4 linked regions of the Homo sapiens genome follow. The protein of the gene in region 1 purifies or fractionates together with the protein of each later gene. This does not show direct contact. Each region holds a gene or a part of one and is shown in the gene's direction. Other genes may lie near its edges. The genes, in order: ZNF212, EPDR1, NEIL3 and ADO.

What was found.
Region 2: the proteins of ZNF212 (region 1) and EPDR1 purify together in Homo sapiens (affinity purification with mass spectrometry; 2 studies listed by BioGRID and IntAct, with this or other methods). This does not show direct contact.
Region 3: the proteins of ZNF212 (region 1) and NEIL3 purify together in Homo sapiens (affinity purification with western blotting, with the first as the bait; one study listed by BioGRID). This does not show direct contact.
Region 4: the proteins of ZNF212 (region 1) and ADO purify together in Homo sapiens (affinity purification with mass spectrometry; 2 studies listed by BioGRID and IntAct, with this or other methods). This does not show direct contact.

What each region holds. Positions count from the first base shown.
Region 1 is NC_000007.14:149,245,933-149,252,878, forward strand, and holds part of ZNF212 (zinc finger protein 212), read left to right. Parts: intron 1-4,226; coding exon 4,227-4,616; intron 4,617-4,748; coding exon 4,749-4,875; intron 4,876-6,773; coding exon 6,774-6,863; intron 6,864-6,946.
Region 2 is NC_000007.14:37,921,909-37,929,126, forward strand, and holds part of EPDR1 (mammalian ependymin-related protein 1 isoform 1 precursor), read left to right. Parts: intron 1-7,218. UniProt on the Homo sapiens protein: Binds anionic lipids and gangliosides at acidic pH.
Region 3 is NC_000004.12:177,306,492-177,314,250, forward strand, and holds the start of NEIL3 (endonuclease 8-like 3), read left to right. Parts: upstream 1-3,382; 5' UTR 3,383-3,462; coding exon 3,463-3,618; intron 3,619-7,759. UniProt on the Homo sapiens protein: DNA glycosylase which prefers single-stranded DNA (ssDNA), or partially ssDNA structures such as bubble and fork structures, to double-stranded DNA (dsDNA).
Region 4 is NC_000010.11:62,801,439-62,809,128, forward strand, and holds ADO (2-aminoethanethiol dioxygenase), read left to right. Parts: upstream 1-3,281; 5' UTR 3,282-3,621; coding exon 3,622-4,434; 3' UTR 4,435-7,041; downstream 7,042-7,690. UniProt on the Homo sapiens protein: Plays a vital role in regulating thiol metabolism and preserving oxygen homeostasis by oxidizing the sulfur of cysteamine and N-terminal cysteine-containing proteins to their corresponding sulfinic acids using O2 as a cosubstrate.

The sequences.
Region 1 (6,946 bases):
ATAGTCAGCTCTGAATGTTATTCTTTGTGTCTGTTTCATGTTTGTCAGTCTGATGGGTGAACGTGCTTTCACTTAGTTATATTTGGATTCCTGATTGTAAGGTGGTTGTGTTTTCATTTGTTTATTGACTGCCTGCATTTCCGCTTCCATGAATGATTTACAATCTGCAGTTTTATTTTGGGGTTCTTGACCTTTTTCCACTTCATATTCTGTTTACAAATATTCTCTCCTTGTTTTTAGACTTTGTTTATGTTATCTTTTATTACAGCTAGCATTTTCTCCTACTTTGACATTCTAAGACGTGTTTATTGAGATACCATTTACATACAGTAAAATTTACTCTTTAGGCAGATAGTTCAACAAATTTTGACAAATGTGTAGCCAGCATATTACCAAGATAGAGAATATTTCCATCATCCAAGAAAGTTCCCTCATATCCCTTTATAATCAGTCTTTTTTTTTTTTTTTGAGACGGAGTCTTATTCTGTTGCCCAGGCTGGAGTGCAGTGACGTGATCTCAGCTCACTGCAGGCTCCGCCTGCTGGGTTCACACCATTCTCTCGCCTCAACCTCCCAAGTAGCTGGGACTACAGGCACCTGCCACCACACCTGGCTAATTTTGTTTTTGTATTTTTAGTAGAGATGGGGTTTCACCATGTTAGCCAGGATGGTCTTGATCTCCTGACCTCATGATCAATCCGCCCTCCTCGGCCTCCCAAAGTGCTGGGGTTATAGGTGTGAGCCACTGTGCCTGGCCTATAATCAATATTTTTCTCCTATCCCTAGCCCTTGGCAACCACTGATCTGATTTCTGTCCCTATAGTTTGCTTTTTTCCAAACATGTAAATGAAACACAAATGTAGCCTTTTGTGTCTGAATTCTTTTTTTTTTTTTTTTTTTTTGGAGTTTTGCTCTTGTTGCCCAGGCTGGAGTACAATGGTGTGATCTCGGTTCACCGCAACCTCCGCCTCTCAGGTTTAAGTGATTCTCCTGCCTCAGCCTCCCGAGTAGCTGGTATTACAGGCATGCGCCACCATGCCCGGCTCATTTTGTATTTTTAGTAGAGATGGGGTTTCTCCATGTTGGTCAGGCTGGTCTCGAACTCCCAACCTCAGGTGATCCGCCCGCCTCGGCCTCCCAAAGTGCTGGGATTTTAGGTGTGAGCCACCATGCCCGGCCCTTCTTTTTTTTTTTTTTAAGTGGTCTTACTTTGTCACTCAGGCTGGAGTGCAGTAGTGTGATCATGGTTCACTGCAACCTTGAACTCCAGGGCTCAAGTGATCCTCCCATCCTCAGCCTCCCAAGTAGCTGGGACTATAGGCACATGCCACCACGTCTGGCTCATTTTAAAAAAATTGTGGAGGTGGGGGTCTTGCTTTGTTGCCCAGGCTGATCTTGAACTCCTGGGCTCAAGTGATCCATCTTAGCCTCCCAAAGTGTTGGGATTATAGGTATGAGCCACCGTGCCTGACCTTTGTCTGATTCCCGTCACTTAGCATGTTGTTAAACATGTCAGTGATTTTGGTTCCTTTTTATTACATAGTAGTAGACTTAGTAGTCGAAGTAGTAGTCTACTACTAAGTAGCAGGCTTAGTAGTCTTCTAAGCTATATAGGAAAAATACACTAAATATATAATACGGTATATAATGAAGTGTCTTATATAGTGTGTCTGTTTCCTAGGGCTGGTGTAACAAACTGGGAAGCTTAAATAACAGAAATTCTGTCTCACAGTTCTGGAGGTTAGGAGTCTGAAATCAAGATGTTTGCAGGGTTGGTTCCTTATGAGTTTTGTGTTTCTCTCCTAGCTTCTGGTGGTCCCATGTGTTTTCTTGGTTTGTGGCAGCATAAGTCCAGTCTCTGCCTTAATCTTGACATGGCCCATTATGTATTGGTGTAACAGAATACATGAGGCTGGGTAATTCATGAAGAAAAGAGGTTTAGTTGGCTCACAATTCTGGTGGCTGGAAAGTTCAAGATTGGGCAGCTGTGTCTAGTGAGGGCTTCAAGCTGCTTAAACTCATGGCAGAAAATGGAAGGGCAGCAGGTGTGTGTAGAGATCACATGGTGACAGAGGAGGCAAGAGAGAGACCAAAGAAGTCAGACTGTTTCACAACCCACTGTAGTGGGAACTAATCCATTCCTGCCAATGACAGCTCACCCCTGTGGGAGCGCATTAATTTATTTATGAGGGATATGCCCTCATGACCCAAACACCTCCCACGAGACTTCACCTCCCGACACTGCCACATTGGAAATACAATTTCAACATGGGTTTTGGTGAGGACAAACCATAGTAGACATCTTCTCCCTGTGTGTGTGTGTGTCTGCGTCTAAAGGTCCTCTGTTTTAAGGACATCAGTCATTGGATTAAGGCCCATCCTAATGACCTCATTTTAACCTGATTACCCTTGGAAGTACCTTATTTCCAAGTAAGATCACATCCTGAGGTACTGAGGATTAGGGTTTTACTGTATTATTTTGAGGAGACACAATTCAACCCATAACACTGGATGGATCACAATTTTTTCATCCATTGACTGGTTCGTGAACATTTGAATTGTTCCCATCATGCTAGATAATTCAAAACAGAAGACAAGAAGAAACTAGCTTAATCATTCTTTTCAACCTCTTACTATGTGGAAGAGGAGGGGGCTTATTCCTTTGCACAGATTCTCACCTACATTCCTGTCTAGAAAAAGTGCTACTGAGCACAGAATGCTGGGCCACAGAAAGAGGAGACTCACAGACTTAAAGTAGAAGCAAAACAAACATGATGGCATGCATATATCCAGTTTAATATTTTGTTTTGTTTCGCTTGTATTTGTCTTTTACATTGAACTTTTCTTTTAATCTCTTGCAGGAGGATGTATTTAAGCTTTTGTCTCATGTGTTCCATGATGAATTAACTGACTTGAGTAACTAGAGTAGGTCATGGCCAAACTTAAATGTTCAGTTCTGCACCAGTCAGTTTCCTTTTGTCCCATGTTCTCTGGACCACAACCCTTGGCCCCAGCAGTTCTTTCCGAGATATTTCCTCTAGTGTCTCGGTCTTGGTGGCCTCACTGTGGTTAGAGAAGCAGCCTTGAATAAAGTGTGTGCTTTATTCAAATAAAGTGAAGTTTGCAGAGGGGGTTAGGACTGAAGTGAACGTGCAGGGAGACAGTAGGGGGACAGCTTGGGGAAGACTTCCCCAGTGTTGGTTTCAGTAATTTTAGCTTCTATGACAGTGATTTTCCTACTGTCAGAGACAGCTCATTAAAGTGAAAATTATAAGGAAAATGTCAGTAGACTTAGTCACATCATTTCAGTAAATATTTTTTAAGGATTTATTCACCATCCCAGCTGCTAGAGTGCAAAGATGAATGAATTAGGTCTTGTAGGTCCTGCTAAGGAATTTTGTCTTTATTGTGGGGAGCCATTGAAAGTTTTCAAACGGGTGACATGATCAACTATGAAGTCTGGCAGGGATGTGGAAGCAAGATAAGATGTAAGTGACATCTTTTATCATATAGTCCAAAACATTAAATAAAAATAGGTTTAAAAATGAACACTGATACAGGAGTCTCAGAGAATATGCTAAGCATAAAGCATAGGTAACAGAACATACACGCTATAATTTCACTTTTGTTGAAAAAAAATAAACTAAAAGATGAAAAAAAACTTTAGAAATACACCAAAATTCAAACAGCTTCTTTCTTTCTTTTTCTTTTTTGAGACAGGGTCTCACTCTGTTACTCAGGCTGGAGTGCACTGGCACGATCTTGGCTCACTGTAGCCTCAACCTCCTGGGCTCAAACCGTCCTCCCACCTCAGTGCCCCAAGTACCTGGGACTACAGGCATGCATCACCATGCCTGGCTAATTTTTTGAACTTTTTTGTAGAGACAGGGTTTGCCTTGTTGGCCAGGCTGGTGTCAAACTCCTGAGCTAAAGTGATTCAGCTGCCTTGGCCTCCCAAAGTGCTGGGATTACAGTTGTGAGCCACCACGGCCAGCCCTAACAGCTTATTGTGTGTGAGAAGATTTTGTGTAATATTTTCTTTCTATTCTTCATCATTTTCCAACATTATTAATACAATATCTATGTATAATTTTTAGTATCAATAAAAGACATGCTTTTTTTTAATTAAAAGAAACTAGATAACTCTGAGCACTGATACACTTGAACACTGCTTTCTTTACTTGATGTTTGGAAGTGACATTGACCCTGTGTCTTTAATCCATCAGCACAGGAGAAAACGACGCTCCACACCTTTAACTTCTTCCACACTTCCTTCACAAGCAACAGAGAAAAGCTCCTATTTTCAGACCACCGAGATTTCACTCTGGACGGTGGTGGCCGCTATTCAGGCTGTGGAGAAGAAGATGGAGTCCCAGGCTGCCCGGCTACAGAGCCTGGAGGGGCGCACGGGGACAGCCGAGAAGAAGCTGGCTGACTGCGAGAAGATGGCCGTGGAGTTCGGGAACCAGCTGGAGGGCAAGTGGGCCGTGCTGGGGACCCTGCTGCAGGAGTATGGGCTACTGCAGAGGCGGCTGGAGAACGTGGAGAACCTGCTGCGCAACAGGAACTTCTGGATCCTGCGGCTGCCCCCGGGCAGCAAGGGGGAGGCCCCCAAGGTAGTCTCATTGAGGATTAAAAGTTAGAAGAGAAGGGGGAGCCAGCCCTTTAATATGTAAGCACCTCAGTTGCTGGCTTTTCTGTCATAGCTGTGAGTAGAAGCACTCATGGTGTGCCATTGGTGATTCCAGGTGTCCAGGTCACTGGAGAATGATGGCGTCTGTTTCACCGAGCAGGAATGGGAGAATCTGGAGGATTGGCAGAAGGAGCTCTACAGAAACGTGATGGAGAGTAACTATGAGACACTGGTCTCTCTGAGTGAGTAGCAGTTTTCTCCCTAGAATTCTGTCTCAGACATACTACAATTCCTGGCTGGCAGCCTGTAATTCAGACCACACCTGTGGCTCCTGTGGCTGTGGGTCCTCTGTCGGCCTGCACGGGCAGAGAAATGCCAGTCTCTAGGTCCTCCCATTTACAGACCTGCACGGGTGGAGAAATGCCAGTCTCTAGGTCCTCCCATTTACAGAGACTTTTGGAAAGCTCGCAGCATTGTGCCTTTTGTGTTTTTTTTTTTTTTTTCCTGTGGTCACATAGTCTGTTCTTGATAGTATTTTCTAATAAATAAAATGTCATATACCCTATAGTGTGATATGGCTAGGGTTCCTCATGTTGTTTTTTAATTTATTTTATCTTTTTTTTTTCTTTTTTTCTTTGAGACAGAGTCTTGCTCTATTGCCCAGGCTGGAGTGCAGTGGCACAATCTTGGCTCACTGCAACCTCTGCCTCACAGGTTCAAGCGATTCTCCTGCCTCAGCCTCTCGAGTAGCTGAAATTACAGGTGACTGCCACCACGCCCAGCTAATTTTTGTATTTTTAGTAGAAATGGGGTTTCACCATGTTGGCCAAGCTGGTCTTGAACTCCTGACCTCGTGATCTGCCCACCTCAGCCCCCCAAAGTGCTAGGATTACAGGTGTGAGCCACTGCGTCTGGCCTGTTTTATCTTTTTTTTTTTTTTTTTTTTTTTTGAGACTCTGTCACCTAGGCTGGAGTGCAGTGGTACGATCTCGGCTCACTGCAGCCTTGACAGCTTGGGCTCAAATGATTCTCCCACCTCAGTTTTCCGAGTAGCTGGGATTACAGGCACATGCCACTGCGCCTGGCTAATTTTTTAAATTTTTTGTAGAGACGTGGGTCTTACTGTGTTGCCCAGGCTGGTCTTGAACTTCTGGGCTCAAGTGATCCACCCACGTCGGCCTCCCAAAGTGCAGGGATTACAGGCGTGAGCCTCCGCACCTGGCCTCTCATGCTGTTTTTAATATTTAAGACTATTTGAGATGGGTGTGGTAGCTCACATCTGTAATCCCAACACTTTGGGAGGCCAAGGTGGGAGGATAGCTTGAGGCTAGGAGTTCGAAATCAGCCTGGTCGACATAGTGAGATCTCTGTTGCTTAAAAAAAAAAAAAAAAAAAAAAGATGATTTGATAACCCTATGTTACCTTGGATGAGGCAGGCAGCACAGGCTGATCAAAAGCATTTTCTTGGTGTTTGGCCGGAATTATAGCTGGTCATTGTGGTCTCAGTGATTTTTTCTTGTTGATTAGGAGTGCTGCTTAATAGATATAAGTCTTTATATGCAAAATGTTACCTATTACATAATAAATGTGTTTTGTTTGGTAGACAAAGTCTTTTAAAACCTAGGTACATGGAGGAGTGTCAAGTGCCTGGAGCAGAGTAGGAGGTAAAGGAAATAGAAAATGGGCCAGAAAAGTGACCTTGTAAGCTTGGTTGGGTCACATGCTCTCATTGTGACTGTTTCCTTGTCTGTCCCAGTGCCCATCTTACCTTGCAGTGCCTTAGCAAGGATGAAATTAGATCCCCTGAAAGGAAGCATTGGCAAGACTTAAGCTGCACGCACATGGAGAGGCAGAGGTGGGTGGTGGTGCCATCAAGGGCAGTGGTAGCTCTGTAGCCTGCCTGCCTGAGCCACAGCCCCTCTAATGGAGGAGCACTGGAGGCAGCAGCTAGCCAAGTCAGTTGTTATGATTGGCCAGAATTTTATAATTGTCCCAAACTGCTAGGGGAAACTGACAAGAACAGTAGCCTTTGAATCTATATTTCCTCCCTGCCATTGGTCATCTTGGTCACTGGCAGCTGATCAGTGTGCAGTGAGCTTTCACTCTCTCCTGGGCTCACACTGTGCTGTTTCCCACCCAGAGGTCCTTGGCCAGACAGAGGGAGAAGCGGAGTTGGGTACAGAGATGCTGGGTGACTTGGAAGAGGAAGGTCCTGGTGGTGCCCACCCAGGTGAGTGGCTCTGGAATATTCTGTTCCCCTTCCATAGCCCTCTGTAGCCTAGAGTGAGCTTTCCCACGGCTGAAGTGCCAGGT
Region 2 (7,218 bases), about 110 Mb from region 1:
GGCTGCACAGTATCGCTTACAGGGGCAAAGCTGTAAGTTTCTTTTAAGTATTGGTCTGACCATTCACCTTTTCACATCTGTTGTGACAAAGGAAACCCTCTTTTTGAGATGTCATCTCGCTTGTGGCCCCTTTAAGACCTGATTTCTAATTTGGGATCACCACCTGTCTCCCTTCCAGAGCCCTGCCGTTCCCCCTAAGTGTGTTCCTCTCACTGGCCTCTCTTTATGGCATTTGCATCATTAGGAGTTGCAAAGTGAATTTCCATGGTTTGAAACGCCAATGGACTGTAAGATCTATAGCAAAAGGGCACCATTAGTTTATAGAACAAAACCAAACTTGATAATATCATTTATTCTAAAAGCATTTGTTCAAGTATTAGGCGACTTGAAGAAAGTACGGAAAGGGCAGACCCTTTCAAACAATATCAAGGGTGCAAAATAATGCATTATGAAATGCAGCACAGAGCAGCACAGTCATCATGGTGGACTGGGAATTGATTCGAAGTCTTTCAAGAACATGAATGTTTTCAGTAGGGTCTTGAAGGGCACAGTAATAATAATAACAACTAACAGTTGCATACTTATTATATATGAGGCATGACACTGAGGACTTTACATCTATTATATAATTTAGTTTAAATCTCACAATAACTTGACAGTATAGGTTTTATGATCTCCATTTTACAGACAATAACTCTGAGGTCTAGGGAGATTAAGCAACTTTCTTAAGATCACACAGCTAATGCTTGAGGAAGCTAGGGGGGGGTTCTGACGCCTATGGTATACCAGGTTCACATTCATTCATTTATTTAACAAGCATTTGTTCATGTTAGGCACTGTGTATAAACAGAATGGCTCCTGGCTTTCAGGGAGGTCAGAGTCTGGAGGTGAAGTCACATAAATAAAAAAAATTTCCATACAGTGGGATGAGGGGTGAGAGCTGGGGTTGTGATGAGAAGAACTCAGTTGGGCACCTAACCCAGGCTTCCTGGAGGAGCTGAAATGAGAGTGAGTTCCAAAACACCTGTACAGGTTTTCCAGGGAGATGTGGAGAGACTGCTGGTCCAGGGGGATGCAGGTGTATCCATGCCTGGTATGTGTGTGCCATCCCGGAGTTTTTAGAGCTGAGTAAATTCCAAAAACCACAGACCACTCACTATTAGGGCTGAAGCCCAGGACATGGCGAAGGGTCATACTGAGGAGTTTTAAACAGTGGAATTTGTGATTAGATTATATAAAGATCCCTGGATGTGTCCTTAAGAATGCATTCCCAAGATGTGGACACAAAATGGAGCCATGTGGAGCAAAAGTGGAAGTGAGAACACAATCTTGGAGATTGTCGTAGTGGTCCAGGTGAGAGATGGGTAGTAGCGATGGAAATGGTGAACAGGGGGCAAGTGAATGCATTAGGGAAGTATTGAAGAGGTTCAACTGAGGAAAATGTACATGATTGGACGGGTTGTGGCAGGCGTGGTGAGGGAGAGGAAAACGTTAAAGAGGCCCCCATTTTTGGCTTGTGAAGCTAATGGTACTGATGGCATAGGGTAGATGGTGATGCTGTTCCTTGCAACAGGGCTTGACTTTGTGCACTTCTAATTAAGGGTGCATTGGTATCCTATGTAATTTTATGTGAAGACTTGTACAGTAGTGGCGCATTGATGAATAGTCATATTGAAGATGGACTGGGATGGCCGAGAGCACACTGCTGAAGCAGAGGAGTGTGTCAAAGAGAAGGATAAGGGTTCATCTCTCCAAAGGTAGTATTTTTTTTTTTACAATTAAAAAAATTAGACTTTAGAGTCAGACAAATCTGGATCTGAATCCAGACTCTGAATATGGGTCTTTGGGTAAGTTAATAAAGCTTTCTGAGTCTCAGTATCCTCATTTACAAAATGTGAATACTTATAATGCCTAATTTATTGGATTATTATGGGAATTAAATGAGCTCAAGTGTATAAAACATACAGTACAATGTCTGATAGTACGCACAAGATGCTCTGTTCATGGCCAAGGTTGGTCCCATCGCTACCACTATCATCATTATCCTGGTAAAGTTACCATAGCCCAGAGACTTGCTGCCAGCCCTTTGGGCTCAGAAACTTGATACAGCAGCACACACAGACCCTTCCTTTGGGAACAACCTTCGAGTAAGGAAACTCAAATGCTAAACCTGTCTACTTCAATGAGTCTTATTGCTGGCATGAGGACCAGCATTCTCAAATCCACCAGACTAGGTCATTCTCTCCCTGTAGTCAGAACTATGTGGGGAGCCAAATTATCATCAGGCAGTTGTGAGCAAAGAGTTGGAGCAAATTCATTGAGCAAACATCTAATGATTGCCTGCCCTAGGTTAGGCTGTATGCTCAATGTGGAGTTTTCCATCATGAATAAGACAGGCCAGCCTGGGGTAAGGTTTAATGGTAATCAGGCAAAGGCAAAGTGATGCATTGATTTTCACAATAGAGATGACTTGGTGGTGGTTCTGTGCTACCCCAACTGTGCTGTTCCTGACCCCTTCCACTCAGAATGGACCCTTGGTGAGTACTGCTCAAGTCTGTCTGAGCAACCCTTCTTCCATGACTCCATGACTGACTAATATAGCCTTTAGATGTGTGTTTTATACCTTTAGTGGAGTCACAGCCAACTCTTGCTGGCTTAGAAGCATTTTTGTCCCTTTGCGGTGATTTCTCATTCCTCTGCCCTAATCCAATAGGTGCTGGTTTCACAGTTAAACTTCTAAAAGACATTGTTTTCCCTTTCTTTCCGAGTTCTTGGCAAGGTTCTTTCTGACAGTCACATCGCTGGCCCTAAGTCAGATGTGGAAAAGAATGTTTAATGCATAAACACATTTTTAAGCTCTTTAAGTGTAGATTTGTTGGAACAAACTCAGAAACTTTTTCAGGTATTAACAGTCTGGCCAAGCAACCAGATGTTATTTGAAGAAAATATGGATGAGTTGTCTCTTCATATTTATGAGTAAGTTGAGAAGTAAGTTTTAGAATTGGATCAACTTCTTAAGATTTTCATTTTGCATCCAGATAGTTATGGAAAATCCCATTGATAGTTACTGTGGAATGACTAGGATTTTCCAGGCTCTGTTTTCCCTGAGATGATGGAAAAGATTAAACAACTTTACAAGCTTCAGATAAGACAAGCCTGAGCAGCAAATGGGAAATATTAGTAATTGATACCATTTTATTTTCTAATTCCAACTGTCTTTTCTGACTCCTTGATTAAATTCACAAGTATTTATTTGAAAGACTGAAGGAAATCAAGAAGATGATTTTCATATTTCAGGCAGCATGTTGAACTTTATAGGGGAAGCAGCGTTGATACACAATGAACCCTCTCAGGCCACCAGTAACTATAGGCTCCCCCTTACAAAATGGTGGCTTGGGTGTTGGAATCAATGAAGCTCTTAATGCAGAGTGAGCAGAGAGGCAGTAAAACAATATGCACAGTCTGGTATCTTGGAATATTATTTCATCACCAGTCGTACATGTTCTATTAAGGATTTGTATTTGTAAAACATGAAAAATATGTCACAAATGGGGCAGCAGGTGGATTCTTATTCAAATTCTGATTAATTCATGTCTGCTTCTCTTGATTCTCCCAGAGCATATTATTTCTTGGAGAAGAGAATAGCATTAACCTCTTTTTTAAACAGAGAATCAGCCTCCTGTAGTGGAGAGAGCAGGGGCATTCATGTTAGACCATGATGGAGTGACAACCATGGCTTCTAATCCTGCCTTCACCCCAATAAGGTCCTCAACATTGCAGAACCTCTGTGTTTTTCATCTTTTAATTTAATTTGAATGATGCCTACAATGTTGATACTAAATCACTTTTAGGCTTTCATTTGTTAAATGCTAGGTACAGATAGTATTAAATGATATCCTGAAGGCACCAATTGTACTTTTATTATATCAGGCTGATTCACTGTTTCTAATGCAATGAACTTGACACAGATTTTAAATTTTTTCTCAATCTGTCCCATTGTGTAGACAAATTAATTCAAAGTTCTTTTTCTTCCTTCTCTTTTTCATCTAAGCCTGTGCTTATGAGTAGAAAAAGAGAAGAGGCTACCTTGAAATGCCTCGGGCCCAAACTCAGAAGGCTCTGCACTCAACTGAGCCTCCCTTCCTACTAAGAATGGAATAGTGTTGCTTATAGGGGTGTTGGTCCAAGTATCAGCTGTGGATGATTAATTCCCAGGGCTGCTATCACCTAAGGTAACTTCAGTAATCTTATGTGTTTGGAAAGGAGGATGAGGATTATTTTTCAAATACATAATTTTGTTTTATTTTGAAACAATCTCACACCTACAGAAAAGTTGCAATTATAATACAAAGAGCTTCCCCCTCGCCTGAACTGTTTGATAGTAAGTTGCCAAACTGATATACCCACGATCCCCAAATGCTTCAGTGTATTTCCTCCCAGCAAGGACATTCTCCTGCATAACCACAATACAACCATAAAAGTCAGGAGATTAACACCAGTTCATTTTGACCATCTGAAATTCAGGTGTCATTCATGTTTTGCCAGTTGTTCTTTGTATGTTCTTCATAGCAAAAAAAAAAAAAAAAAAAAGATTTAAATGCAAGCATTACACTTAAGTGTGGTGTCTCTGTGGTCTCTTTCTGTCTGGAATAGTTCCTAAGTCTTCCTTGCACTTTAGTGCTTTTAAAGATTGCAGGCCAGTTATTTTGTAGAATGTTCCTTGATTTGGGTTTGTCTGATGTTTCCTCATAATTAGATTCAAGTTACTTACCTTTGGCAGGAATATCAGGGATAATACTCTGTTCCAATTGCATCCTGATGTTCACTTTGATCACCTGATTGACTGTTGTCTGCCAGCCTTCTTCACTGTGAAATGATACATTTTTTCTTTTTAATTAGTAAGATTTGGTAGGGAAATATTTTAAAACCATGTACATATCCCATTCTTCATTAATCTTCTGAATTATACTTTATTTGTATCAGTGTGGACTCAAGCCTTCTAATTTTGTTCTATTTGCTCTCGTTGTTTACTTTGCTGTTCATAATGTCCTAGATTTGGCCAGTGGAAGCCTCTTCAAATTGGTTTCTATGTTCTTTTGATGTGTTTGGGCACTTCCTTGCTTTCCGGCACAGCAAGATATTTCAAGATCATCTATACTTTTCCTGCCCCAGTCCTAGGATAAACCATTTTTCAAGAAGCCCTGGTTACTTTTCCTGGAGAATAATATGTGGAAGTTAGAACCTGTGCTCTGGTCATGCTCAGTGCTATCAGGTGGCACTGCTACCAGGTCCTCTCAATGGACAAAGCAAGGGGTGTTAAGTTTGAATACACACATCCCTCCCCACACACACTCATACATATATACACATTTACATCTATATTTATTTCTGAACCTCCAGTTCTAATCCATACAGGTGTTTAAACTGATGCCTTCATTCTAATCCAACACTACATGGTTCATTCTAGTTTTTTTTTTCCTTTCATTTTTGCTACTCCCTTCTCAGCCAGTGAGAAAACTGGCTTACTATTCAATTGCAGTAGGTAACCAGTCATGTATCATTACGCTGTCTCCTTCACACATGGGCTCTGCGCTCCAGGCCAGCCCATGTAGAAGCCTATCTTCCTTGGTCCTACCTAGTGGCTTTAGTCTAAATTGTTCAAGAGAAAGGAGTAGATGAAATTATGTTCTTAACATATGTTTGTATTGCTTTTGGATTCTCAGTATGTCATCATTACAAATCCTCAGAGGGTGTTTCTGTGTGACTGGGGGAGGCAGACTAATATAAAGTGCTCAATAAATCTATTTGATCATGAATCTTGTCTTGCATGGATTGGATTTTCATTTTAAGAAATCACGACTTTGTGAATATTAAGAGCATGACTTCTCCTTTGACCTTTACTCCATCATTTTGGTCTCAGATGGCTGGAGATAGCATATTCTTTTGTGAGCTGAGGAAGTCTTGACTGCTTGTGGCCTCCTGATCCTCAAAGAATAAACCATACTGATTTGCAATACTTGAGTTTCGCAATATTTGAGTTTTTCTTCAAGAAACAGATTTTCTTGGAAGCACACAAAGTTTGATTTAAGGGACTTAATTCAGTGTGTCTATAGACCCTGGATTTCAGACAATTAATGCTGAGATGGGGAGGGAGAAGCAGGCACTGGGGAAAAAAGATCCAAAGAAGATAAGCCCAGGAGAGTAAGGAGGCTGATGGAATGTAAGACAAATTTACGAATGGAAGCCAGAGGTGGTCACTATACTGCTTTGAAAACATCTTTACTTTCTCCAATAACCTTGAGCTGTTTCTTCCTGATTCTGACCTTGAGGATGGTGGTCAGGGGCAAAGTGCCCAAAGATCTGAAAATATTCCACCAATTAGTGGTTTGTTTTTCCTGGAATAAATATGATAGTCTTAGATTTCACCAATTCCAGTAAAAAATTTCTATTTTCCCCCTTAACATTTTCTTTTATTTTACCCATCTTTAAATAAAAAAAAAAAACTTCTCTTGATCTTACCAGCTGAAATCTCATTCTCCTCTTCTATTTAAAGCAAATCTCATGCTAACTACAATTTTTGTACTCCCATGCTCTCTTGAACACCCTCCAATCACTTTTGTCACCATTCTATTGAAAATACTCTGGTCAAAAGCAAGAAGCTCTACATTACTAATCAACCAATCTTTGATCAGTCCTCATCTTATTGTAGATTAATTCCCCAATCTTGATGCACTGTCTTCACTTGGCTTTCAACATGCTAGTCTTCTGGTTTTCCTTCTCCCACCTTATTTCCTCTCCTCAAGCCTTTTTGCTCTTTCTGCTCTTCTCTGGACTGCTAATAGTGGACTCTCCCAGGGCTCAGGCTCTCATCTCTTTATGTTCCTACCTATACCCTAATTTTGATATATACTGAATCTGACCATACCTCTACTGTTATTCTGGCCCAAACTTTTATTATGTCTCGGCTGGATGTTTATGATAGCCTCCTAACAGTTGTCCCCACTTCGGACCTTGCTCCCTTTAGTCTGTTCTCCACATAGAAACCCCAGGGGTTCTCTTGAAAATACGTCATGCCACTTCTTGGCTCAGGATCTGCTCCCCAGCCTTTTCCCTACCTTATCTCTGTCACCAGCTCACTCATTGTGGACCTGGCCTCAGCACGCTGACCCCATTGGCACTTGAATCTGTCATTCCCTCTGCCTAGAAAGACTTTTTCCT
Region 3 (7,759 bases), on another chromosome or scaffold:
GTTGGTGCATGCCTGTAGTCCCAGCTACTCGGGAGGCTGAGGCAGGAGAACTGCCTGAACCTAGGAGATGGAGGTTGCAGTGAGCCGAGATTGCACCACTGCACTCCAGCCTGGGTGACAGAGTGAGACTCCATGTCAAAAAAAAAAAAAAAAAAAAAAAAAAATTGGGAGAACTTCAGTAAACTGGGAAAAAGAGGAGGTATTAAAAACGTGAGAATAGGCCGGGCACGGTGGTTCATGCCTGTAATCCCACCCAGCACTTTGGGAGGTTGAGGTGGGCGGATCACCTAAGGTCAAAAGTTTGAGACAAGCCTAGCCAACATGGCAAAACCTGGTCTCTACTAAAAATACAAAAATTAGCTGGGGGTGGTGTTGGGTGCCTGTAATCCCAGCTACTCGGGAGGCTGAGGCAGGAGAATTGCTTGAACCCAGGAGGTGGGGGTTACAGTGAGCTGAGATCACGCCACTGCACTCCAGCCTGGGAGACAGAGCTAGACTCTGTCTTGGAAAAAAGAAAAGGTGAGAATAATAGCATGAGCCAAAAAACAAAAGGTACAAAATATATTCTGGGAATAAGTACAATTTATCTTAATTTCGTAGAGTATTCATAGTTTTCAAAGTGCTTTCACATAAGCTATGTTGTGTATGGAAATTAGAGCAATCATATGCAGGTGTATAGAAAAAGTATTATTTATTGTCCATATGAAGAAAGTGAGTTTTGGAAAAGATAAATGACATATATATATATGGTTATCAAATAGCACAATTTAATAGATTTAGCAAATTTACTGAAATTAGTAAATTGGACTTAAGAAGAAATTGTGAAGGTTCCTCTGGTAAGAGTGCACAAGAGAAAATTCAAGGAGGATAGCAGTTAGCAGGATCCTGACATAGTCCAGCTGAAATGTAGCAAGGGTCTGCACTAGGGTAGGCTTGCTTGCAATGTTGTGGGCTCTTTTTACAGACAATGTAGATACACAGCGTATGCGAGTTTGCTTTTGATTGGACGTAAGAAGCAAGATCAAAGAGATATACCAAAGGACTCAGAGGCTAGTCACATATAAACAAAATCTGGGCCAGGTGCAGTGGCTCATGCCTGTAATCCCAGCACTTTGGGAGGCAAGGCGGGTGGATCCCTTGAAGTCAGGAGTTCAAAACCAGTCTGGCCAACATGGTGAAACCCCGTCTTTACTAAAAATACAAAAATTAGCCAGGCGTGGTGGTAGGTGCCTGTAATCCCAGCTACATCGGAGGCTGAGGCAAGAGAATTGCTTGAACCCAGGAGGTGGAGGTTGCAGTGAGCCAAGGTCAGGCCACTGCACTCCAGCCAACAAAACAAAACAAAATCTGACTCCGCCTTTCAGTCACGCCAGTGAAATCTCTTAATGCCTTCAGTGTCAGTCCCCAACTCTTACTAATTAAAGATCGTATTTGACCCAAATGTGCACAGTACACAACACCTTAAAGAGAAATGAGGTGAATCAGATAAATGAACAGGTTGATATTTTTTAAATTTGTCCACAAGCTCTTTGATATCCCTCCTTTCAAATCACAGCTTAATTCCCCTCCCCTTGTGAATGCACTGTATTTAATGACTGGCTTCTAATGAATGGAATAAGAAGTAAGTTACCATAGTAAACTAAGTAATAAAGGGTGACTAAGTAATAAAGGGCATTGCAGCTTTCTCCTTGACTTCTCTCTTGGATCACACTCTCAGCTGCCATGTCATTAGAAGAGCCGAGCTGCACTATAGAGACACAAGAGGTGAGAAACTGAGGCCTCCTGCCAACAGCCATGCAAGTGACTCATCTCGGAAGTGGATCTTTTAGCTACAAAAAGCCTTTGGGGCACTTTAGCCTTGGCTAATATTTTAACTGTAACCTCTTGAGAAATGCTGAGCCAGGATGACTCTGGCTAGCTAGACTATTGCCAAATTCCTGACCCACAGAAACTTTGAAATAACAAATGGGATAATTGATGAGGTAACAATAAATAACTAGTACAACGCTGAAAGAGGAGAAGGTATATAGGACTTTTCTCCATCAAAGGACAGAGATTATTGAATTGAACAAGGGAGTAAAGTACAAATAGTCCTGAAATTGATCCAGCCAACTTTTGATCACTAATCTCTCCCTGCAAAGGAAAGATTTAATACTTTTCAAAATTTCAATCAAGTCTTCAGTATATTCAAATTCAACTCTCTAGTATACAGATGCTCCTCAACTTACGATGGGGTTATGTCCTGATAAACCCGTTGTAAACTGAAAATACAGTAAGTCGAAAATGCCTTTAATATATCTAACCTACCAAACATCATAGCTTCACGAGGCCCTCCTTAAATGTGTTCAGAACACTTACATTAGCCTACAGTTGGGAAAAATCACCTAACACAAAGCATATTTTATAATAAAGTGTTGAATAATTTATTGACTACTGTACTGAAAATGAAAAACAGAATGGCTATATGAGTACTCAAAGTACAGTTTCTACTGTGTGTCACTTTTGCACCATCATACAGTCAAAACACTGTTACGCTGGGGCATCCTAAGTCAGCAACCACCTGTGTATATGCTCTTGTGGTTTAACGGCAGCACAGTGCTATGCTTATGAAATCACTTAGAAATTGACATTCTGTTTTAATGTGTAGTATTTCAGTTTTCAAAAAAGAATACACTTTATAATTTACAAAACTATATGGAGTCATAAACTTCATAGATTTATATGTATGCATGCATCTTTGGTTAGGGTTGTGGGTAAATTTGAAAAGCTACGCATTACCCTCAAATTTATATAAACCTCTACGTTTAACAAAGCAATTTCATATAGCTTTCATCTTGGGGCGTCCCCTTACAAAATGGATGCATGCACTTAGGTAGGGCTCACTTAACTATCTAATAATGGAGTTTTTAAATATAGACACTAGAATATATTCTGCTGTTTGTTCCAAAAACCCTCTTCTTCGTTTCTCTTATCCCACCCACGTCCGAATATAGCATGCCAAAAACAGAGCCAAAAACAAGATTGTCTGTGACATATCTGTCCTGTCACAGACAAGGACAGATTAAGAGGACCAGATCAGAAAATGTGTGTATACTAAGTAGCTCAAAGACAAGGGCAAAACTTTAACGCAAAGAAAATACATTCAGAGCTTTCCAAGTCCCAATTTCTTCTGCTTTTACAGTTCAGCCTAGTTAGTTGTCCTCCACGCCCCCCGCCCCACGCGCGTTTGCGTTTTCTTAATAAACCCACAGCAAGACCTAGGGCGGGGGTGAACCACAGCGCATGCGCCGTAGGGAGCGACCTCAACAGCTAGGGTGCTGTTTGGGCGGGGCCTGGGCGGGGCCAGACGCGCGCGAGATTTGAATTTCCTCTGCGTGCGGTCAGTGCCCGCGCAGCGTTGAGTTGCACAGCGGTATTCTCACCAGGCCCTGCAATCGGTGGGCCACAGTGCCGGCCACAGAGATGGTGGAAGGACCAGGCTGTACTCTGAATGGAGAGAAGATTCGCGCGCGGGTGCTCCCGGGCCAGGCGGTGACCGGCGTGCGGGGAAGCGCTCTGCGGAGTCTGCAGGGCCGCGCCTTGCGGCTCGCAGCCTCCACGGTTGTGGTCTCCCCGCAGGTGAGCTACTCCTGTAACAGGCCATGCAGTCAGCAGGGGGGAAATGGAATAAAGACCCCATCAGGGTTCCAGGATTTAAAGTGTCATCTCTTTGCTCTGGCCCAGGTTTCCTGGGGTCCCACCTTTCACAGAGTTTATCGTCACTTTACTGTAGGGAGAAGTCGGTCCTAGCGCGCCTGCGCAGGAGAGGAGGGCTAGCGTTCTGGGCTCACGCTGCCGGAGCAAGATGCCCTAGGGGAATCCAGTGAAGGTGTTTTATCCGAGTCACCTTACTTAACTTCTTTATGATACACACATGGTTTCCCATGTCTACAGCTGCATTTTTTACTATTGATATTATCAAATCTCTGCTACCTCTGATATGTTTTCTTCGTCCCATTTTAAGCTTTTAGCATAAAATTCTACTTTCTTGCTTGGCTAATCTGCAATTGGTAAGTATATCACAACTAGTATATAATTCTAAAACTACACGTAGAAAATTTAGCACTAACTTCTCACTCAACTTCATATTGCCATCTAATTAAGGGGCAATGAAACCCAGTTCTGGTTCCCTTAAGTGAATTTATTTCTTTTTAAAGTAAACTAGCACAGCTTCTTGCCACTCAGGCATTCATTGCAGACGATGTGGTATTCATTTGGCCAGAACTTGTACTAAAAATATTCTGATTAAGGCATCATGTTTTAAAAGCCCTCTAGATGTATGGATGATTGTATTTCATGCCTACATGCAATATTGCACTGTATTTCAATTTCTTCTGCAAAGCTTCTTATAGCCTTTGGTCCTGGAAGAAAAAGTTGCCTGCTATGAAATTAGCATATGCTTACAACTTGAAAGAAATGAGGTTCTAAGTCTAAGAAAATATATTTTCAAACTTGGGAAAAAATAAGTTTTACATCTCCTTCCAATTGCCCTTTTGTTTATTTTGACTTGATATGCCAGTAAGTACTCTGTACCTATTTTTTTTTATTATTGTTATAGTGTTTCTAAAATCGTTTCAGGGTACCACAGAGATGGATTTTAGATGGTTTCTTAAGAATATTAATATTTATGAAAATTACTCATTCAATAAAATTTTGAATACTCAAGACACCTGGGGAGCAAAAACAAATACTTCCTCTTTTGGAGCCTATACTTCAGTTGGGAAGACACAAAGACATTCATTAAATAATCACCTAAAGAAATATAAATTAATAAGTTCTGTGAAGGAGAGATACACGATTCTTTAAGGACTTGTAGGAAGACCTGGGAAGGCTTCCCCAGGGAAGTAGCAAAGCTGAGGTGTGGGCCGGGTGCAGTGGCTCATGCCTGTAATCCCAGCACTTTGGGATGCTGAGGTGGGCAGATCGCCTGAGGTTGGGAGTTCAACACCAGCCTGACCAATATGGAGAAATTCCATCCCTACAAAAATAAAAAATTAGTCAGGCATGCTGGTGCATGCCTGTAATCCCAGCTACTCAGGAGGCTGAGGCAGGAGAATCGCTTGAATCCAGGAGGTGGAGGTTGCAGTGAGCTGAGGTCGCGTTATTGCACCCCAGCCTGGGCAACAAGAGCGAAACTCTGTCTCAAAAAAAAAAAAAAAAAAAAAGCTGAGGTGTGCAGGGTGAGTAGAAGCCATGCAGCTCAGGGATTGGAACAGGAAAAAGACTGAAAGAAAGCCAGAGTAGACACTGCCCTCTCATTTAGGAGTCGACTGCAGAAATCCAGGTGACAAATTTGGGGTCAAGTGCTGGTGGTGGAGATGAAGACAAGAGAATCACTATGATGGGAGGGCTAAGCAATGGATATGACATGAATATACTTAGGGATATCATCATTTACATCATTCAACCACAACGTATTTTGTGTTAGGTTTTATGCTAGCTCCTGCGGATACGAAGATGAGTAGGATATGCTTTCTGCTGTGAGAGTCCAACCTAATGTTTTAAATAAATATCACCTCATTGGTATTTAGGAAAAATAGCTTAAACATTTCCTTTTAAGTTTTGTTGTGATTATCTCTGATGGTATGGCATGAGATGCTTTTACATTTCATTCAGTCATGAAAAAGGATAACCCTATGATAAAGGATTAACCTGATTCTACAGATGAGGCATATGAGGCTCAGAGTGACTTTAAGTAAATTTGCCCAAGATCACATGTCTAGTAAGGGGCTAAACCAGGGTTTGATTTTTCTTTAAAACTCCAAAGCCTACCCTCTTAACCATGCCATAGCTCCTCTCAGCCATAAAAGATTCAGTAGGATCTTTATTGCTTTTTTAGCATACAACGGTAAGAACACCATAATGCTCAGTATATAGTAGTGGTTATTTATTAAATAGAAAAGTGCAATCTTGGATTTTTGGCTGTGTCTACCACCATTTTTAGTTTTGTTCGGTTGAGTCAATTCTCTTATATCTATTCTGATAATTCTCTTCTAACAGCTTCTATGGCCATGTTTGGATTGCACAAAAGAGTGCAGCCTGATAATATAATACAAATGCGTCAGTAATGGTTAGGCAATTATTAACATCACTTGGCAGCAATATTCAATAAGTTATACCCCACACATAAAAAGCCTGGCATTTAAAGGTATTATTTTTGATACCTTGATAGAAAGAGGCATTAAAAATTGGAATAGGTCTTTGTGGTTAGTATCAGGAATCTGGTTCTATGGACACTGGATTTTAAAATCAATATGGAAGGAATACATTCTTTGAGGCTGTTGGTAAATTTCTAAATAATTTACTATGGCTTCATTTTCTGGGACTTTGATCTGAAAAAAAAAACATAATTATAACCTTTTGTAAACATGAAGAGTCTTTTGCATTTTAGAGGGATCCATAGTAAATTTCATTAAAACATGGTAGGTTGTCACAAACCTCTGGCAAGATCATTACTGTAGCAGATGATCCCATGTCTCCTAGGCATTTATGCCAAAGAGTTAAAGCTATTTAAATGTTTCTGCTACTGGCTTGAAATGATTAGTTTTCACAAGGCAGCATTTAAAAATAATTTAATAACTGCATACTGCATTCTTTACAGTGCAGTAAACATGGAAAAAGTTACTAATGAGAGCTAAAGAAATATTTAATGGGCATTCAAAATAAAATATTTAAACCTCAGATAATCATACCAAAAAACAAACCAAAAAACACTACTTCAGTAGTTATTGCCATAATGGACTGTTACTGTGTCATATAGCATTCCTCTTTGTTACAGTATAAAGTTTATAGAGAACACACTTGAATGCATGTCTGCCTGTGACAACTGATCCTCATTTTGAGAAAACCTAGCCATAGAAGATCCCAGCATCTGCTAGTCATGGATGTACTATATTATTTTTCTGAGTCGTGATCCACTGTCTTGTCAGCATAAAATTGTGCAACAGTATAAGCAAATTGCATAAAACTCTGCTGGAGATTGTGGAAACTTATGGTAAGAAACAATATTGGAATATAAATGAACATATCTGGTTAATGAGCTTTGAAGAGTCAATCCTTTGATTTTAATTGTTGGGTGGATACAATATTTTAGTGAAATCATATTTAATCTGCATGTGTTTTCAATCTCACAAAACAGGATATGAAACAGTTTATAAGCATTCATTTTATTTGAAACATGGTCTGATTATTTCCATCACTCCTTAAAATTTGATACATGTATTTAATATGCCAGCTATTTATCGTTATATATGCTTCACAGTGTCAGGAACTGAGGAGACATTTAATAAAAGTTGAATGGATGGAGAAGAACAAGGTTTTGAATAGTGCAAAGTGATTAAAGATTTAGAAATAAATTCCATTTGGACTCTTTCATTATGAGAATGTGTATATTTTGTTGTGCATGTTATATGGAAATTCCTACTACCAGAATATAAACCAGGTAGTAAATTTTCCTTCTTCAAAGTGGGGGAAAAAAATCGTGGCTCATTTTATTGCCATTATTTAAAGAAATGAGCTAATCTACAGAGATTCATTTTCCAGCAAAATGAGGCTCATTTCTTTAAGCATCTGAAGGGGATTTCTAAATAATTTAGAGAACATGCATTATATACTTCCTTACCTTCTTAAATGGATACTAATAATGATTTATCCTTAATGACTCAAGATCATCATTATTGGTATCCAGAATCCTATGGAATCATGAAACAAGGGATAACAA
Region 4 (7,690 bases), on another chromosome or scaffold:
TAATGCTAATAGAAACCCACTCAGCCTATGCTACTGGCAGTGGGGCAGAAGGGCAAGTAAACTGCTTCTTAAGGGCAAAAGCCCATAGAGTCAATATCACCCATTAGTGCAGCTCTGAATGAAGGGCAACATCAAAAGGAATTATGGAGGTAGACTCTTTGTGACCTAAAAAAGTACCACATGCCCTGTAGACACTCAGCAGTTCTTACAAACTTTTTTTTGAGAGACAGTCTCACTCTGTTGCCTAGGCCTGGGTGAAGGGGTGCAATCATAGCTAACTGCAGCCTTGAACTCATCAGCTCAATCAATCCTCCTGCCTCAGCCTCCAGAATACACTACAGGCGTGTATCACCATGCTCAACTAATTTTTTAATTTTTTTTTTTGTAAAGATGGGGGTCTTGCTATGTTGCCTAGGCTGGCCTTGAACACCTGTCCTCAAGCGATCTTCCTGTCTTGGCCTCCCAAAGTGTTGGGATTACAGGCATGAGCCACCATACCATGCCTGCCTGGTTCTTAAAATTTTTAATGTGCAAAAGATTCAGATGCAGTAGGTTTTGACGTGATCTGGGAATCTGCACTTTTGACAGACACTCCCAAGTGATTCTGATACAGGCAGTCTTCGGAAACTTTGAACTCAGGCCAAAGGATGACTAGCAAATTACCAGGTAAATGGTTTAAGCAATAATCTTTTTTATCTCTACCCTGAAGCTGATTCTCAAAACAAGTCAAATTCCATTTCAATACTTGCTTAGTATTATTTAAATTCATTGGTCTTTAAGTACAACTTATAGCCATTTTAAACCTATAATAGCTACTGTCATGGGGCAGCTACTATGTTCTACATAGTGTCATCAGTGATTTACACAGGTATATTATCCCATTTTATAGATGAAAATTTTGAGCTTCAGTTAAGTAAGTGTGGACAACCATTAAGTGCAAGAGATCTGCATGTTAATATAGTCTGTGTTCCATGGAGTCTATACTTACCACTAATTATACCCTAATAGAAGTAAAACCAATAAATAAAAGTCCATATTTGTAAATAAAGGAAGGGGAAGAATTTTACTCTCAAATACTTCTCACTTTAGAAAAAAGACTGTATGAAATTTATTTATCAGCTTTGAAAGTACATTTAAATAACGTAACAATGGCATGGCAACCTCTAAAAATGAATCAGTCTTAACAATCCTTTCCTAAAGCAAATAACCACCCTCTTAACTAATGAAAGCTGGTTCACTATTTACAGCTCTACCAGTGGTTCTCAAACTGAGCTAATGATCAAGAATCGCTTGGACGAGCGCCGTGGCTCACGCCTGTAATCCCAGCACTTTGGGAGGCCGAGGGGGGCGGATCACGAGCTCAGGAGATCGAGACCATTCTGGCTAACATGGTGAAACCCCGTCTCTACTAAATATACAGAAAAAAAAATTAGGCGGGTGTGATGGCGGGCATCTGTAGTCCCAGCTACTCCGGAGGCTGAGGCAGGAGAATGGCGTGAACCCGGGAGGCGGAGCTTGCAGTGAGCCGAGATCGCACCAGTGCACTCCCGCCTGGGCAACAGACCCAGACTCCGTCTCAAAAAAAAAAATAATAATAATAATTGCTTGAGGAAGCATCTTAAATATAAATCATAGGGGCAACCCGCTGTGGTCCCCTTCCAAGCTGTGGAAGCTTTGTTATTTCGCTCTTCACGATAAACCTTGTTACCCCTCAAAACAAACAAACAAACAAACAAAAAAAAACCACACACAAAAAAATAGGCTTCACTCCAGTTCTTCTGAATCAAAATCTCTGAGGTGTGACCCCAAGATCTTTATTTTTTAAGCTCTCCAGGGGGTTCTGATGAGTAGGGTTCAGAACTTTTGTTCCCTTAACACCGGCATTCTACAAATGAATAAATTGAGGCCCTAAAAGGGTAGGATTTGCCTAACGACACACAGCTTGTAAGTACACACAGTAGGCTGGAACAACAATATCCTGACTCTCGTTTGGTGCTTTTACACCAATTCAAGCTGCTGTTTTTGGTAAGACTGTACTTATTTCTGCTCTGCTGCTCATGCTTTGCTGGGTACTTAGTATTCACTATCCTACAACTTATTCCCTCATCTGCAATCTGGGAATAATAATAGTGCCTGCCTCTTAAGAGTTGCTGCAAGGATTAAATAGTATAACATTCATTATATAATGCACTTAACACAGTGCCTGGCATATTGTGAGTACTCATTAGCCAGGTTATGTAATCCACTTTAAAAAGTATGCCTATTTTAACTGGAGAGGATTCACTGAACCACTCCAATTACAAAATGTACAAGAAACCCATGTTCAGCTTTGGAATCCAAAAAGACTTTAAACTCAGGGTTAAGTTTAAAGTCATAGTATCTAATGTCTTGCTTTTCTAGTCATTTACTTATGCCAAAAGTTAGTTCACGCCAAGGAGAAGGATGCCTCTGTGTAGTGAAACAATTTCACAATTACTGACTGAACTGACTGTTGCACACCACTATTTCTCCTAGGATGCCTCAGAACCATCTAGTAACTCCATCTCTGGGTGACGACAGGGAATCTGCATTTATAAAAGCCCGCTCCCCCTTCTCAGGCAAACCAAGATTTGATAACCACTAGTATGTTCAGAATCCACGACCACTGTAAATGGCCTCTCAAGTCTCTCCAGCAAAAAGCTATACTGCTCTGTAACCAGAAGAGCAGCGTCATCAGGTCCTGATGCAAACAACAGCTGGGCCCAGCTGGGCCCAGCTGGGCCGAGTAACCTTGATGATCACAGAGGACGGCCTGGACCCCCTCCCCTCCTAGGAAACACAAAATTATAAAAGCGCCCTCCTGCAATTCCCGTGGGAGACAGTGCTGCCTAGGCCGCTACGAGGAGCTAAGGCTGACTCAACAGCCTCCTTCCCAGGGGCAAGGCCAAAGGAAGGCGACCCTGCATGGCTAACCAGGCCCCAGCGCGGCGCCAGAAGGTTAACGACCCTCCCTGCCCCTTTCCTTATGAAGGCCAAGAGCCTCCACTACTCCGGGGGCCAGCTGACGGAAGTGCGTCACTCCACCCTGCGGGGAGTGCCGGGAGTTGTAGTCAAGTGGCTACTAATCTTCCACCCCGATTCATCTTTTCTAAAACAAGAAAAACACCTCTGCATCCTGAAAAAGATCGCTTTATGCCCAACATGTGTAATAGTTCCTCTATTTTCCAATCAACAAACTGAACTATCTCAGAGCTCAAGCGGAAGGCCGGACTACAAGTCCCGGCATGCTCCGCAGGGTCCCCGGGCGCCCGGCCACCGTCGTAGGTGCGGGCCGCATGAATGGAGCGCCGGGCGTAAGGCAAAGCCTGGCACCGTCTGCGCGGCCGCTATCTGCTCCCGGAGCGTGAGTGCGGGGTGTGGGGCGTGCGCGTGCGCGCTCAGAGGGGGCTCAAGGCGAGCGCGCCGGGCAGTTGCGGGCGCGTGGCTGCTGAGGTTGGCGGCGGTGCCGCGCGCCCGACGGGCCGGTGGTTGCGGGGCCTCCCGCCTCGACCCGGGCTGGGGGCAGCCGTGGCGGCCGCCGGGGACCGCAAGGGGCGGAGGAAAGGAGGGGGCCGGTCCCGGCACGCAGAGGAGCAGCCGACCATGCCCCGAGACAACATGGCCTCCTTGATCCAACGGATCGCCCGCCAGGCTTGCCTCACCTTCCGGGGCAGCGGGGGCGGCCGCGGCGCTTCCGATCGCGACGCGGCTTCTGGCCCGGAGGCGCCGATGCAGCCGGGCTTCCCCGAGAACCTGAGCAAGCTGAAGAGCCTCCTGACCCAGCTCCGCGCCGAGGACTTGAACATCGCCCCGCGCAAGGCCACACTGCAGCCGCTGCCGCCCAACCTGCCGCCAGTCACCTACATGCACATCTACGAGACGGACGGCTTCAGCCTGGGCGTGTTCCTGCTCAAGAGCGGCACGTCCATCCCGCTGCACGACCACCCGGGCATGCACGGCATGCTCAAGGTGCTGTACGGCACCGTGCGCATCAGCTGCATGGACAAGCTAGACGCGGGCGGCGGGCAACGGCCGCGGGCCTTGCCGCCCGAGCAGCAGTTCGAGCCGCCGCTGCAGCCCCGGGAGCGAGAAGCCGTGCGGCCGGGCGTGCTGCGTTCGCGGGCCGAGTACACCGAGGCCAGCGGCCCCTGCATCCTCACACCGCACCGGGACAACCTGCACCAGATCGACGCCGTGGAAGGGCCTGCCGCCTTCCTGGACATCCTGGCCCCGCCCTACGACCCGGACGATGGCCGGGACTGCCACTATTACCGGGTGCTGGAGCCGGTCAGGCCCAAGGAGGCCTCCAGCTCGGCCTGTGACCTGCCTCGAGAGGTGTGGCTCCTGGAGACCCCACAGGCCGATGACTTCTGGTGCGAGGGAGAACCCTATCCAGGTCCCAAGGTCTTCCCTTGAAGCCACTGGCGCCCAGGAGCGGTGGGCCGAAGACGTGCCCTACCCTACCACAAGGGCTGTGTCTCTACCCCCTAGCCTGGGCGTTGGATCTACTGGAATGAGCAGCAGCCGCTTCCTCGGCAGCCTTGGGAAGCACGGGCGACTGGACAGCAGCCGCCGGGCACGGTTATGGGGGCGGGGTGGGCGGGGAGGCTAGATTGTTTCCTGGTACTGTCACTGCCACTGGGGCTTTGATTTGGAGGAATGGGGCAGGGGACTATCTGAAGCGCTTCCATCCTAAAGCCATAATGAAAATATCTTCCTCTCTTCCCCATTCTATACAAAATACTAAGTGGTTTTCTTGCTCCCACTCCCTACCCCTTAGTTAAATAGGGTTTATTTTCCACTCATGCCCTTATGCCTTTTTTTCTTATAGTTTTTTAACTTATTGACTGTGCATGACCCAGTGGTTTGAATTGTTTTTAGTTCAAGTCATTGGTAAAAACTAGGTTTAAGGAGATGAGCTACTGTTTAAAGTGAGCTGGCCTGCCTAATTAATTCCTTGTGAAAACTAAATGATTTTTTCAGTTTGGGGATCATTCTCACAACATAACTATGCATGTAGAGGACAAGATTTATTTTCTTTCCTCCCTTTGCCCAGTAGCCACATCTGGTTTACTCAGGCAGCATCTACTAAGAAATTCAGCACCTGCATATCTCTGTGACATGGTCACTTAGAGCTTATCTTCCCTATGAATCTCCAGATCTGTGAGTCGAGCAGATTTCATGTTGCAGATTCACCTTTAATGCAAAGACTGTATTATCCTCACATGACTTTTTTTCTTGTCTTACTGTACCTTAAAAGGTGATAGAGTAATTCTGTATTTTCTAACGGGAAGATTCAAAGGAGCTGAATGTGTTATGCTTCCAAACAACTGAATGTAAAACACTCCTAGCCAGTTGTTGCATTCCCTATATTTATTTACTTCCAATATTTTACTGTAAAAGTAGGGAGAAATATTATGTTGATAGTTGTTTCATATTCTCTCAGGAACTTTAATGTTCCCGACTCGGGTGATTCCAGCTGTGTTGCTGGCAGTGTTGTCTCAACCCTCTCCCTAAAATGACTGAGCCCTGGGTTCATCTAATGTGGTTTTCCTTAGGAAGAGATAGAAGGCACAGAAGATCACAGCTAGAGAATTGAGAATTAACTATACTACTAGCCATTTTAGGGCACCAAAACTTGGGATTAAACACTTCCTACTTCCCACTCCCAACTCCTGAAATGAAGTCTTGCTATCTGTGACTAGTTTTATTTTTGTGCTTTTAATAGTCCGAGCAGTCTTACCTTGTTTACACATGTATTGACACCATTTGCTTCAGGCCATGGAGCACTGTTTCTCCCTTTTTACTATTTATAGGATTCCGTTTTTTCACAAGACTTTTAATAAAAAGAAATTGTAGAAATAAACACATTAAAATTTGCCCAGCTGTCGTCTAAGCCCTCTTGATTGACTTGCCCAAGTGGCAATAGAGTTCTAATATCTATAATAAAGGGAGATTTGCTATTATTAGTGGAATGTTGACCCCGTATGTAGAGAAACAGTACGTGCCTTTGCCTCTTTATGCACACAGAGACCCAGGGTGAGGGAGTATTTGTTCCCAGTTTTTAAGATAGTATAAAAAAGCAAATACTTGGTGAGTGATTTAAAAATAAAACCAAAACAAAACACAAAAAGATATTCCACAGGACATGCCACTTTATTATAAAACCTGACACAGGCATAGTACCAAGTATTTCCTGCATTGTTGCTAAAATTGTTTTATTGTAGCTCCACATTCTGGTGTAGTTTAAAATGCCTTTGGGGGCAGTTTGAAGCAGTTCTTCATGCCACTTAGTTTGAAAATAAAATTCTAGATATGCAAATGATTTTCTTAGAAAACTTCACAAAATAAAAGATCTTGTTTTTTTTTCCATAGCACAGTAATGAATGTGGTTATCAATCACATACTTTTTTGGATTATATTGTAGCAAAAAGTTGATTAGCTTACCAAGATTATTAATAGCAATGTATGTGTTATAATACAACTTAGTACATTAAAGCTACGAAAACTCATCCTGGCTGTAGGATAGTAATAAAGGAAGAATTATGACTTCATTATGAAAAAAAGAAGTTTTAAAGTTTTCAATTACGAGCAATTTGGAAGAAAAAACCTAAGGTGCTTTTCAAAAGAGTAACTGAAATTGTTGCAGGCCAAAACAGCAATATGATATCTCAGATTTAGTTCAATAAGAACAGTGAAACTTTTGGTTCACTAATAAATTCTGAGTAAATTAGTGGTGAAGACAAAATATAACTTGTTTTAGTGAGCCACTGAGGAAAGAATATGCTTATTACAAAGACAAAATGTGGTGCAGAAACTATCTTGCACCTGTGTGCATAAACTGTTAGTCGTGACTGACTTGGTGTGTTGCTATTGTGTTTCTATATACTCCGTCCAATATAGATAATGTTTTAATAACAACTGTGGGATAAAAGTTATCTTCCCCTTGGAAAGACTAATGAGCACAATGATATTAATCACTTTTATGGTGAATAATAAATGCAATAATTGCCTCATGGGTGAGAAATTGTCTGTCTAAATGCTTCTGAAGCTTTTAAAGTATCTGGTTCTGTCACTGGCCAGTTATATCAATGCAGAGTATTGTGTACCTACTTACTATTTTATGAGAATTGATTTTTACTAAGCCTGATTTGAATGGGTTGCATTTACACCAACTGCTATTTATTAATGAAAGTGGTAGCCTGCTTTTTAAGTAATATGTGTTTTGGCAACAGGAGAGGGTTTTCTGAGCTTTTAACACCAGTAACCCTGAACTTCTTCCAAAATCCACACCTTTTATTCCCCCTTTTCCTTGTCTCCTTCTAGGTGCCTCAGTCCTGGCATCTCGGGAGGACTCTGCCATTACTCATCTGTTACTGATTCTGAATCTTGTGCTCTAGCTCTACAGCCCAGTGAAGAAGCAATATATCTTTAATTCAGGGCTTGCCTCTTGCTTTCCAACTCTAACCTGAGAGCAGTGCTACTTTTGTAATTGCAGGTCTAAATAACTTAAGCGTATATACAGAAGCCAATCACTGATCACTTCCATTGCAATGAGGCATCTGTTGTCAAAGAAGGAAACCATTTGTCAAGTCCCTTATAGATATTGAATCTTCAAACCCAAATCTGGGGATGTTTACATTTCTGGATTAAAATCAGTGTACCTGTAATC